Regions from separate parts of the Homo sapiens genome. Here regions 2, 3 and 4 are each reported to be linked to region 1. Evidence: microRNA targets listed by miRTarBase, many of them from high-throughput screens and not tested one by one. Region 1 holds a microRNA gene; each other region holds the end of a gene's coding sequence.
The links. Region 1 holds the annotated microRNA hsa-miR-548v (AGCUACAGUUACUUUUGCACCA, at 1,058-1,079, shown strand). A microRNA usually pairs through its seed, bases 2 to 8, with sites in the 3' UTR of a target mRNA and lowers its output. Matches are read on the target gene's strand: a 7mer-m8 pairs with bases 2 to 8, a 7mer-A1 pairs with bases 2 to 7 and ends in A, and an 8mer does both.

Region 1 (3,156 bases):
ATGACGTCAGTCAAGTCCTGTGAACTCTCATTTCACAGTGCTTTTCCCCTTCCTATGTCTTTGCTGTCCCCATTCATGCCATCCTTGCTCAGACCCTGGATAGCTTCCACTAGATCATGATAGCAACTTTTTTTTTTTTTTTTTTTTTTGGGATGGAGTCTTGCTCTGTCACTCAGACTGGTATGCAATGGCGTGATCTGGGCTCACTGCAACCTCCACCTCCCGGGTTCAAGTGATTCTCCTTCCTCAGCCTCCCGAATAGCTGGGATTACAGGCACCCGCCACCATGCCCGACTAGTTTTTGTAATTTTCTAGTAGAGACAGGGTTTCACCATGTGGGCCAGGCTGGTCTTGAACTCCTGACCTCAGGTGATCCGCTCACCTCGGCCTCCCAAAGTGCTGCAATTACAGGCGTGAGCCACTGCGCCCAACCTGTGATAGCACCTTTTTAACCAATCATTAGGCTTGTACTGTTTCTCACCTATAATCCATCCCAAGCACTGCTGACAGCGTCCTCTTACCAAAGCATCCCACGCTGCTGATTAAATCTTCCAGTGGTTCTCCCTTATCTACAGCTGATGTGTCCAGTGTGGTAGCCACTAGCCATATGAGACTGAGCATTCGAAATGTAAATCCGTTGAATTGAGATGTGTGGTAAGTGTACAATACACTTGGATTCCAAAAACTTAGAATGAAAACAAAGGATGTAAAATATCTCATTAACAACTTTTATATTGAATATATTGAAATATTATTTTATATATATATTTGGGTTAAATAAAATACGTTATTAAAATTAGCTTCATCTTTTTCAACTTTTCTCAGCGTGGCTACTAGGAAATTTATAATTACGTAACTCATGTTATTTTGTTTTGGGGAGTCTGGTTTTCAACTGGTACTATAAGGCTCTTTATCATTTGGCAACAACTGCCCCTTTTAATGTTATTATCATGCCCAGATGCTGTAGCCGTACATAAAGAGATGGAGGAGAAGCAAGAGGGATTTATTGAATACTAGGTTTGAGCAAAAGTAATTGCGGTTTTGCCATCATGCCAAAAGCTACAGTTACTTTTGCACCAGCCTAATATTTACTAAGTGCCAGATATTCTTACTTACCTTATTTAAATCCTCACCAAAGACACGAGTTGGAATTTACAAATATGAAAATTGAGGCATAGAGTTAGGTAATTTGCCTGCTATCAGACAGCTAGCAAGAGGAGAACCAGGACGTAAACCTAGGTCTAGGAAGCTATCAACTAAAAATGTCCTGTAAACTTCCTGTACGTCATCCATTGTTCACGTATCATTACTGGGTTGCTGTCCTTGCCCACAATACCTACATGTTCAGGTCGGTTTTACAGCAGCATCACATCACCACTTGCATTTAATTTACATAGATTCAGTACACAAACAACTGAAGGAAGAAAAATGCAGGCCGGGCGCTGTGGCTCACACCTGTAATCCCAGCACTTGGGGAGGCCAAGGCGGGTGGATCACCTGAGGTCAGAAGTTCGAGACCAGCCTGACCAATATGGTAAAACCCCATCTCCCCTAAAACTACAAAAATTAGCCATGTGTGGTGGCATGTGCCTGTAGTCCCAGCTACTCGGGAGGCTAAGGTAGAAGAATCACTTTACTTTGAGAGGTGGAGGTGGCAGTGAGCCAAGATCGCACCACTACACTCCATCCTGGGCAACAGAGCGAGATTCCAACTTAAAAAAAAAAGAAAAAAAGCAAATTAAATGAAGAACACAAGTCCACCTTGTATTCCCCCCAGTGAACGAAGGCCCGGGAGTCAATTTGAGATGAAGGTCAGGAGTCCACCCTTCCTTCATGTGTCTGCTCAGTCCCCGAACACCTCTTGTGGCGTGAGCATTCTATACTCTCTGCTATCTTAGTGTTTAAAGATACTTTTCCCTCATGCAACCTGGCCTCTAAACACAAGCCGAGGCCTTTATCAGGTGCTCAGTTATAGAGAGAGTTGATCCAACGCTAGAGGAAAAAAATTCACTGGGTTGGATCTACAGAGAGATGCATTGTCCACAAACATGGCAAGCTCCTAGTGAATTTCCCAGACAATTGTACTGTGTGTGAATTTCACCTTATACTTAAATTTAGGTCCTGACAGCCAAGGAATTGTGACTGCACTGAATACAGCTCCAGAACCCGCTTTTTTTTTTTTTTTTTTTTTTTTTTTTTTTTGCGACAGTGGCCTTGCTCTGTCACCCAGTCTGGAGTGCAGTGGCGCAATCTCAGCTCACTGCAACCTCCGCCACCTGGGTTCAACCAGTTCTCCTGACTCAGCCTCCTGAGTAGCTGGGATTACGGATGCCCACCACCATACCCAGATAATTTTTGTATTTTTAGTAGAGATGAGGTTTCACCATGTTGGCCAGGCTGGTCTTAAAGTCCTCACCTCAAGTGATCCACCTGCCTCGGCCTTCCAAAGTGCTGGGATTACAGGCATGATCCACCACTCCCAGTCCAGAACCCACTCAGGAATGATTTCCTGGCCTTCTAGATCTACGTTCTGTTCCCGTCTGGATTCCAGGAGCATATATGCTTCTCTTTCATTGTCTGTGTTATATTAGAGATACCGGTTTAATGCTTGTTTTTGCTTTTTAAGACAGGAAATTTACTGAAGGCAGGATCTGCATCTAGTTCTTTCTTATGAAACCACCCCAGCAGCTTTAATAGTCAACACAGTATATATGTGAGTGAACATATGAACGGAGAGGATGGAATTCCAGATGTAGGATGAGCATAAAGTCTTATGTAAATGTTCTTTGCTCTCTTTATTTTATAATCAGCAAATATTTACTGATTGTGTAATGTATACTGAGCACTATTATAAAACAGTTGGAGGCTAGGCATGGTGGCTCACACCTGTAATCCCAGCACTTTGGGAGGCTGAGGCGGGTGGATCGCTTGAGGTCCAGAGTTTGAGACCAGTCTGGCCAACATGGCGAAACCCTGTCTCTACCAAAAAATACAAAAATTAGCCAGGCATGGTGGCATGTGCCTGTAGTCCCAGCTACTCAAGAGACTGAGGCATACGAATCGCTTGAACCCAATAGGTGGAGGTTGCAGTGAGCCAAGATCGCACCACCGCACTCCAGCCTGGGTGACAGTGAGACCCTGTCTCAAAAAATAAAT
Region 2 (3,156 bases), not on the chromosome of region 1:
GAGGGGCGGGGGCGCTATTTTGAACCGGTCCCGCCCACATGGCAACCCTCACAGCCTCATTCAGGAGACAGGCAGGGGCCTCTTGGCTTCTCCCACACATCAGTTACCCGGAAAGGGGCCTCCTCCTGAGGCTGATGTTTTCCCAGGTTTAGAGACGCAGCCCTCGGGGGAGAGGAGGATCTGGGGGCGCAGTGGCCCTCCACACACACAAACACACAAACCCCTGTATTAAACCATCCCACACGGGACCCAGGGTGACACCTGCCACTCAAGAAAGTCCCACCTGCATCTGGATTGTGTCACTAAACATGCGACATAAATTGCTATCTCTTCTTCACCCCCTCAGCAGCCGCCCCCAGCCCAAGCGGGGAAAATAAGCTTCCGCCTCCCATTTGTGGGGGCGGCCCCCTCCTGAGACCTGTCATCACTCAGGGGGTGTCGGGCAAACTCTGGGGGCTGTGTGGGGTGAAGGGCTGTGGGCTGGTGGGCATGGGAGGGGGCGGCTTCCTGCAGCTGAAGCTATTTTATCTGAGTAGAGGGGCAGCTCCACTCTGACGCAGCTTCCTCGAGAGCAGCCAGCACCAGCCTGGAGGATGCCTGCTGCACACAGCAGAAGGTTCTAGCTTTTTAGAGAAAACCAAATCTGTTCCCACACCTTGAAGATACAGAGGCTTCCAAACAGGAGAGAAGAAGGCAAAGGCCTGGGTTGGGGTCTGTAAGAAGAGAGGACAGGACGCGACAAAGACACTGCCAGGTGTTCAAAAACGGCAGCCCAGCCCCAGGCAGCAATGGAAGACGGACAGTAGCTAAGGGATCCATGATAAGGGGTGGGCAGCAGGGCCCGCTTCTCAGGCAGGACTGTGATTAGAAAGCCCGGTGGATGGGGTAGGTGGGCTGAAACCCCCAGAACGGTGGCCACTACTTCCCAAGCACTTTCATCCTGCAAAATCCCTTCTCCTGCCCTCATGGAGTTCTGACAGTCTCTGATAGACAAACAAGCCCTTCAGAGAGGGACATGCCCAATGGCACTGTGTCAAGTGGAGTCAGAAGCTTGACTTTGGGCCAGCCCCATCTGTTAGCATTTCCTATGTTAGAATGAAAATGAAAGGAAAGGAAACAGACATGTAAATGTCCATCCTCTTAGTATCTAATTTCTCTTAATTTCAGATTGATACTTGATCCACAGTATCCTGGACAACTTCTGCTAGATTCTCCCCACCCCTAGCCCCCATTAGGGATCTAGCCCTGTCCCAATCACTTACAGAGGGGCTCCTTAAAGAGGCCCATGGTCTTTTGGCAACTGAAGGAGTCCTTGTGTAATGCCGACAATTTCACCCTCTAACACATCTGTTTGCAAGCAGGATTTTCAGATCAAGGTCCACAACCCCATACAATTGTTCTTGCAATTCTGAAACCCTAAAAGCTCTCAAATGGTAAGTTTTTCCCTAAGTTACTTAGTGGCAAAATTAGACTGAACTGAGGTGAGGCTATTTACAGTTTGTATAGCTCCCAGTTAATGGGACTAGTCACATGTTTCTCTGCAGAAATATTCACGTGCCTGATGGTAGGCGAGATGTTCCACACTCTGCCGGGAAGTTAGAAAGTGTACGATAAATGGATCGCATTGTCTTTCTCAAATCTAAAATTTCTCAATTCGGAGACACATCTGGCCCCAATGACTTCAGAAAAAGGAATGTGGGCCAGAAATGCTGTTAAGTATTGGGTGAAAGCCTGCTAGTCTGCCCACTCCTGCTTCAGTCTAATAACTTTGTGTATAAACATCTGGCAGTTTCACCCCAGGGAAGGAGCTACTCCTCTCCTTCCCAGGAAAACACAGGTCACGACACACCCAGCCCTCAGATTTCAGCTGCGAGGAGGCGGGGGGTGCGGTCAGGGAGGCAGGCCCAGGAGACGCCTGTGGGACTGGTCTTCTCCCCGAGGCCTCAGGCCAGCTGTGGGCACAGTGGGCCTTTCCACGCTAGGGTGGAGCCTGGCCATCCTCACCCACACCCTGGTGCTGCCCCCAGGAGACCACACAGTAAACACTCGGGGCACCAGATTTTGAGGCAGGTGGGGTCCCACAGGACGGGTCTACCACAGTCCTGTCCCCTTGGTGAGCCCCTGCTCACCCAGACAGGGCCCGGTGTGGCCCGGCCCAGCAGACGTGGCGTGCCTTTGCGGTGGGCAGTGGGTACAGCAAGGCCAGTTGGAGCCTGCCGGAGCATCCCAGCCTCTCTGTGGGCGTTCTCATCTCCACCCCACTCTCTGATGCTCTGGTGCCTGCGCCCACAGTGCTTTCCAGAGCAGGAGGGGCTGGCAGCCCTCACAACCTGCTGAGAAAAGCAGATGCGTTTTCAAAATAAATAATATTTTTAAAAATACCCCCTTTCCACCCCCAGTCCAGAAAATGGCAGAAAAGAACATGTAAAGGTCCTTGTGCCCAAAGCTGCCTGGTGCAGCCCTCACAGGGCCCCCCTGGATCTCCCCAGCGGCTCCCGTGGGCTCACAGCTGCTGTGGGATGCCCTGCTCCTTGTAGCCTGTGAGGAAGAAGCAAAGGAGAGATGGTTAGACACCTGCTTACTTCAGGATTTCTCCAGGAGGTGCCCCTAGCCCAGAATGCACACAGGAGGCATTGTTTATACTAAGGTGTAAATGACTGCTACCATCAGAGCACAACTTTTCCCAAGGGCTTTGACTTTCTAATGGGAAACAAAAGAATGAATCAGGAAATGTGGAGTACTGGGTCTACTGGGAATGTATGACGGGCGGGCATTTGGGGTGGGAGCTAAAAGGCTATCGACATGCTCCTGAACCCACATCTGGAAGCCGCTTACAGACTGGTCTGGTGTGCTTTCCCAGTGCAGAGCCTTGGGAGCAGGTGCCAGGCAGGCTTCCCCGAAGGTTGGGCATCTGGTATGGGTGGATAGAAGGAGGAAGAAAGGAGGAAGATGGCATACAGAGGGGAGCAGCCATCCCTGTGTGCGTCCAACCTGCTGGACGGTTACGGCAGGAAAGGGCGCCTGAAGGCTAAACCTTTAAAACATTGTTGATCATGAGTCCTTTGGGAAAAAGTGAGCTCTGTGGATAGTAAGGAATTGTTACTGCTTTATTTAGGTGTGAAAGGGTATTGTGTTTGTTTTCTTAAGAAGATACCC
Region 3 (3,156 bases), not on the chromosome of region 1:
ACTTAATCCAATTTTGTTTTGTTTTGTTTACATTTGCTAACTCTGAAATGTGACTCATTTTAAAATATGTTTTTCTACCTTCTTAGAGAAGCGGTCAGCAATTTTCTCACTGCCCTCAGTTTGCAAAGAAAGAGCAGGAATCAGCAGCAAGTTCCTCATCCTGCAATCTCTGGGAATATCTGGGCTGCCCTCAGAATTGCGCTCTCTCTGATGGACCAACCAGAACTCTTCCAGGCGGCTAATCTTGGTGACCTGGATGTCCTCTTAAGAGCTTTCAACTTGGATCCTTGAAGAAAGAATAATACCAGTACTAATAATCCCTGATCTGTGTGATTGTACTGAAAAATCAAAAACTATTTTATTATGAATTTCAAAAGGATAAATCAAATATTCAAAAGGCCATGGTCATATAGCCCAAGGAAATTAATTCCTGTGGACAATGCCCAGTCTCTGTTCAGATCCAAAAGCACAAAATGTTGTATATAGAGTCAAAGTCAGGCTCAAAAGAAGAATTAAGAGACTCAAGACAAACCAAGATAAAGTAACTGTGTGTTGAATACTCTTTCCACAAGTTGCAAGCATATTGCAACACATGTTCTTTGGGTTTTTTGTCTCCCCTTGCAGCTGATGACACATCTGAGGAACTTGTTCATGGGAAACATGGAAAAAGCACTGCCTCAGATTGGGAAATTCTGACTGTTTCTGAACTGTCTTCTTTTGCAAGACTGAACATAGTTTGGGCCATTGGTGCATGCACATATATTAACTTGTGACTAAAGACAGACATTGCTTAAACCTGTTCCAATTTTAACTTTTACTGTAGCCCTTTGATTCCAGAGAGGGAGCTTTGCTGGCAAAAGCAGTTTTTGCACTAGAAATTTTTGCTGTTCCCAATCTAAACTTTTCTGGTATTGTATATATGCACTTTAATATCTTATTTATGCCTTGCTGGAGTTTTGTTTTGTTGCTCCAATTTTTAACTTGGGGGTGAAAGATTTAAGAACTCAGCCTCACTAGATCAACGGACCAAATAAACAATTCCTGAAGACAGTTTTTCATAGTGTAGGATTTTGAAGAAGTGTTTTTCTTAAAGCAGATACGATGACATAAGGCGTAAATATGGCAAACAGATCTTTTCATTCACGTGCTTTCTGGGTCTGTATGAACATAAGTAAGACACAAGGTACTGTCTCTTCATGCATTCTCTGCAGGAAGAAAGTTTGATGGTATCGTGATTTCTATTGAGTTCAAATTAACTTGCTTAAGTGTCATACTTTACTGGCTTTGCCCTGCACACCAATATTCCTTTTAAACCATAAATATTTTAAATAATATTTCTTAAGAGTGATAAATAACATTTTTTCCTAAAAATTATGTTTTCTTAGTTTCATAATAATCTGCACTGTTCATCCCCTTGCATTCTAAGTGATAGAAGAGCAACACTTTCAAACCAAATCTCACTGAATGCCAGTGATTTCATATGAAAGATGCATGCCTCTTTGGCTCTTTGAACATTTAGCAAGTATTGGGAATTTTCTATTAGCAGTGGTGTTTTAATTGGTTGAATTCCACTTAGTTCTCCACAGTGTTTTGTATGTGTTTGGGGCTTGGTGATTATTTTGAAAGATACATTTTTTAAAGAATTAGGAACATTTTTTGCAAAATGCTAATCAGAATATAATTTTCCCAATGTCAGGTATAGAAGTTATCCCATTCTTCTTTACCTGGTCTCCTTCCTTCGTCTAGAACCTTCCCCACAGTAGCTAATCCTAACAACTTTTTATTTATGTTCTTTGATAATAATAGCTCATCCCGCTCATGATTATAGCTACCCACAAAAAATAAAACAACAACAACAAAAAAGACTCCACAGAATTGGGATCAAAACAGTCTAATTGGCTGGGGAATAAGCTTCTACTGAGGAGTAAATGTGCACACGTGCTTATCAATTGAATGCGAGGTACAGGAATAAAATCCTCTCCTCTGTTACATCTGAAGTCCTTGGGTTGTGAGAGGGCCTCAAGTTAACAGAAACCACAAGTCCTTGAGGCTTACATATGTTATAACCTATTCTAGTTTATAAAGACAAAAAGCTGAGGCCACTGTGAGGAGTGCCAGGTTTTGATAGTCATTGTCAAAGTTGACTTGGGCCAGGTGGTAGCTCCAGCTGGTCAGCAGAAGGCAGAGGCATTCAGGCACTCATCATGGGTAGCAGCGACCACCCAGTCTCAGACCGTGCTTCTCTACAGTCTCAGCAGCAAAGTAAAGCTCAACAATGCTTTCAAGAATGGTATTGTAAGAATTGTAGAATTCGAGAAACCCAGTCTGGTAAGGACTCTTGGGGCCAGCCTCCAAGCCATGGCAGGGCCTGCTTGAATATGCCTGATTAAGCATCCTTTCCTTCCCTGCTCCTTCCTCCTGCCATCTCTGTACCTTGACCAGAAAGTCGGCATGAATAGTTCATGGACAAAGGATTGAATAGCCTCTGAACAAAGGATTCAAAGCAAACTTTGTAAGTGTTCTGTGATGCCATTCTATACTTTGAGCAGCAGCTGAATCTGCAGCCTGGATTTAAAGCCTGAAACTAGTATAAATGTCAAATAATTAATTTGTTGCTAAATGGTGGCAAATTTTGTGGCCCAAGTTTTATTTTGCTATTGGAACACAAACTCCAAGGAGCTGTTTTAGGGAAGACTAAACAATCTTCCATTCTTACCATTATTTGGCAATTTGCAGAGCATTTAGTAGTACTTTCTCTAGTGTATGTAGTATCTGTCAGATCTAAGATTTTTATAGGCTGTCAAGAAGTCCAGAATTACGGCCCAAGAGGAAAAGAGTTGCATTTTTCAATAATATTTTTTATAAAATTAAGTTAAAACCATTATTAAAACATGAGTGACAGGCCAGGTGCGGTGGCTCACGCCTGTAATCCTAGCACTTTGGGAGGCAGAGGCGGGCAGACCACGAGGTCAGGAGTTCGAGACCAGCCTGACCAACATGGTGAAACCCCGTCTTTATTAAGAATACAAAAATTAGCCGGGTGTAGTGGTATGCACCTGTAATACCAGCTACTCAGGAGGCTGAGGCAGGAGAATCACTTGAACCAGGGAGGCGGAGGTTGCAGTGAGCCGAGATTGCACCGCTGCACTCCAGTCT
Region 4 (3,156 bases), not on the chromosome of region 1:
TAAACAAATTTTTAAAAGTAGCTGGCTGTGGTGGTACGTGTCTATAGTCCCAGCTACTTGGGAGGCTGAGGCAGGAGAATCATACCACTTGAGCCCAGGAGTTTGAGGCTGCAGTGAGCTATGATTGTGCCACTGCACTCCAGCCTAGGTGACAGAGCAAGATAGATGATTGATTGATTGATTGACTGATAGACTGACCCCATAAACCTTTTGAAACTGAAGGTTATAGTCTGTGTTTCTGTGGACTAGCAGGGAGTATTCTTAAAGTGGAGTCAGTGATTGGAGGTTGGGGGAAATGTCAATTTTTTTTTTTTAATGTCTCAGAGAACTAGCTAGTTGTAATTCCTAGGGCAGGAATAAGGAACTCATTAGGAAGAGGCAGTTTTGGTAGTTAAAACTTAAAGGTAAAATGCAGTAAGCTAATATCAGACCTATTATAAAGTTAGGAAACTTGAGTTGCATTTTATTAAAGGATATGAGGATTTTTAAGGGCCTTTATTTAGGGTTTTATCTCTCTGAATATAATACAATTTTTCTTACTTGTTTTCATGAACCAACAGGACATATTTGTCAGAAAACTTACTGTGGACTTCTGTTTTATTTTTAAAGTGGGAACAGATGAATCCCAGGAGAGCAGCATGACAGATGCGGATGACACACAACTTCATGCAGCTGAAAGTGATGAATTTTAACTTCTGGAAATCAGACTTTTACAACTGGATGTGTGACTAGTGCTGACGTGTTTCTTGTCCCTCTGTATACTGAGTCTTTACTCTTGAGCTGGCGGTGTCATCGTCCGTCACTTATACCATGAGTGTGCCACTTTCATTGGACCCTGACTGTATACAGAATGAAAGGCAGTGCAATATTTAGCTGCTAACAAGACTGGCTCTTTTACCAGTATGAATGACAATTTATGGGGGGTAGGGTGGGGAACTTTCTTTTCTGTTTTTCTTTAATCTCCCTTTGTTGGAAAGTATCATGAAAGGAAGAGTTATGCTTTATCTTGAAGGAACCATTAGATATGGAAAATAGTGATGAACCAGAGTTTCTTGGTTGCTTTTTCAAAAATTTGTTTTTATTTGGTTCTGTTCCTGATAAACAGAGTAACTGACCTTCATTTCTAGGTTCTTCAAGAATGGTGTTTGCAAGTGCCAGATGGAACAATAAAAGACGTTGCCTATAACAGTGACTTGATTGCCAAGGAATGTAAATTACCTTAAACTTGCAGTATCTCCCATAAACAAATGTAATGGGCATATTGGGACTCGTATGTAGGAATCAAATATCCCTCCATACAGTGTACTCTTATTCTTGGCAAGAATGCTTTAATGTCTAACCAAGAATTTTAATTTATTCATCTTGCTTCAAAGTGTTGATCATTGTTGTCTTGGTATTGCAAACTTTAAAATTGTTTCTTACCATATTGCCTCTTCTCTTTGAGCTCTGTGGGATCACCTTTAACATTCAGAGATGATAGAGTGGTTCCCCACTGAGAAGCCAAAACAAGGCCCTTAATAACCCCTTAAGTTCACCATATGAATCAGAAGGAGAACACTAAAGTGGAGAGACTTTTAAGAGATCATGATAGTGAAAGCCTTAATATAATCAGAATTGTACCATAACCTTGAATCTATATTTGTTCAAAACATCCCTTTGACTTTTCTAAGTGTTTGCTTAAGCAGAGTGTAAGAATGTGTGGTTACCTTTGGTTGAGATCCTTTCCATTCTTTTTGACTCTCTGCTTCAGATTTTTTCAGTAGTGTGAGTCACCAAAACATTTACTAAGAGTAATTGGGTTTAGGATGTTGGAAATTTTTAGCTTGGGGGAAAAAACATTCTTATGAAGGAGATAGGTTCTCTTCTGAGTTTGTCATAATATAGATTGGTGTCTTTGGAAAATGGCCACAATTTTAAGAATTCAATTATGCATATAAAATGATAATTATTGGAATTCCACAGTAACAGATTTAAACAGTCTTAAATTGTTTATCTCCTTTACTGTAATGTATTGAAATTTTTAGAGAAATTTTAGTTGTTAACATTTTATTAAGTGCCAGTGTCAGAATATAACAAATTATAGTTTCTTATGAATGACAGGCCTACAGTTATTATTCTGGATTATTTGATGGAGGACAAACTTACCTGTATTTGTTAGTCAAGCTGTGAAAATAAGGTGGATTACAAAAGATGTGAAAAAAATTTTAGTCTGTAGACTCAGTAATTTTCTATAATTTACTGTTAATCTCATTTGAACATGGATTAGGTACAATTTATAAATTAATTCAAGTCAGGGTCTTTAGGTATCAGGTGCCAGAGAGATATTTAACAGATTTCCCTACCTAAATTTATGTATATGTACTGTCTAAAACAATACTTTTTTAAAAAAAAGGAACAGTTGGGAGAAAATAAATATAATGAAAAATTCCCAGAGGCTAGCACTTGGATTCTAACACGTATGCTATTGTATTATCCATTAGTTCTGTAATATTTAATTTTAGATTCTTTTATTTTTTTAATTGGCAAAGCACAAGGTGCTGTATAACAGTGTCATTTAGAGTTTTATAGAAAGCTTCAACCTGAGTTCTGCGTTATAAAGCCTGGAGAAAGCTAAGCTTAGAACATAACTTGCTGAAGTATAATTATCTTTTTGTAGCAGGAATTTATGTGCCAGAGGTGAGAGTCTTTCTGGTACTGATTTTTTGAGACCAAGGATAAAAGGATCGTTTTGTAAGACATGCCATGGCAATGGCTGGTTGGGGGACAGTTTCCGCCCAAGCTTGGCCTATTTTATTTTTCCTCATACCTACTTTCAAAGTCATTTAGGTATTTGAAGCCTTATTTCCCACGTAGTAACACTTTCTGGCTTTTGCAGTTTCTTTTTTTGTTTGGTTTTGTTTTTTGCATGGAATGGGGATCAAACAACCCGAAGAAGAACACATTTTGATCAAGCAAAATGTTTGCTTCAAATTTCAGAAGTTTATTTTACAGAAATTAAATTAAGTAGTTTGACATCCTTTTCTCTGTTTCACACATATATTAGGTTGGTGCATAAGTAATTGTGGTTTTTGCCATGACTTTTATGGCAAAACCTGCAATTACTTTTGCACCAACTTAATACATCTATATACATATATATATACGCGCACACACTTG

Region 2: miRTarBase lists STUM as a target of hsa-miR-548v. The part of its 3' UTR that is shown has no 7-base or 8-base seed match.
Region 3: miRTarBase lists PEX5L as a target of hsa-miR-548v. Seed matches in the 3' UTR shown: 7mer-m8 at 818-824.
Region 4: miRTarBase lists CDC27 as a target of hsa-miR-548v. Seed matches in the 3' UTR shown: 7mer-A1 at 2,652-2,658.

What each region holds. Positions count from the first base shown.
Region 1 is chr8:17,679,511-17,682,666 of GRCh38, reverse strand. It overlaps MIR548V (microRNA 548v), which reads left to right and starts at 1,010; the gene lies at 1,010-1,089. The region is part of intron 7 of MTUS1 (microtubule associated scaffold protein 1); the gene reads left to right.
Region 2 is chr1:226,601,388-226,604,543 of GRCh38, reverse strand. STUM (stum, mechanosensory transduction mediator homolog) reads right to left here. Exons shown (of 4, transcript NM_001003665.4): 4 at 1-2,538. The coding sequence ends at 2,504. Among named protein-coding and RNA genes, the nearest start is that of STUM, 54 kb to the right of the region's middle. RefSeq lists enhancers at 1-296, 1,506-2,041, 2,042-2,578.
Region 3 is chr3:179,798,963-179,802,118 of GRCh38, reverse strand. PEX5L (peroxisomal biogenesis factor 5 like) reads left to right here. Exons shown (of 15, transcript NM_016559.3): 15 at 87-3,156. The coding sequence ends at 291. Among named protein-coding and RNA genes, the nearest start is that of PEX5L-AS2, 98 kb to the left of the region's middle.
Region 4 is chr17:47,118,471-47,121,626 of GRCh38, reverse strand. CDC27 (cell division cycle 27) reads left to right here. Exons shown (of 19, transcript NM_001256.6): 19 at 610-3,156. The coding sequence ends at 692. Among named protein-coding and RNA genes, the nearest start is that of CDC27, 69 kb to the left of the region's middle. RefSeq lists an enhancer at 1,217-1,827.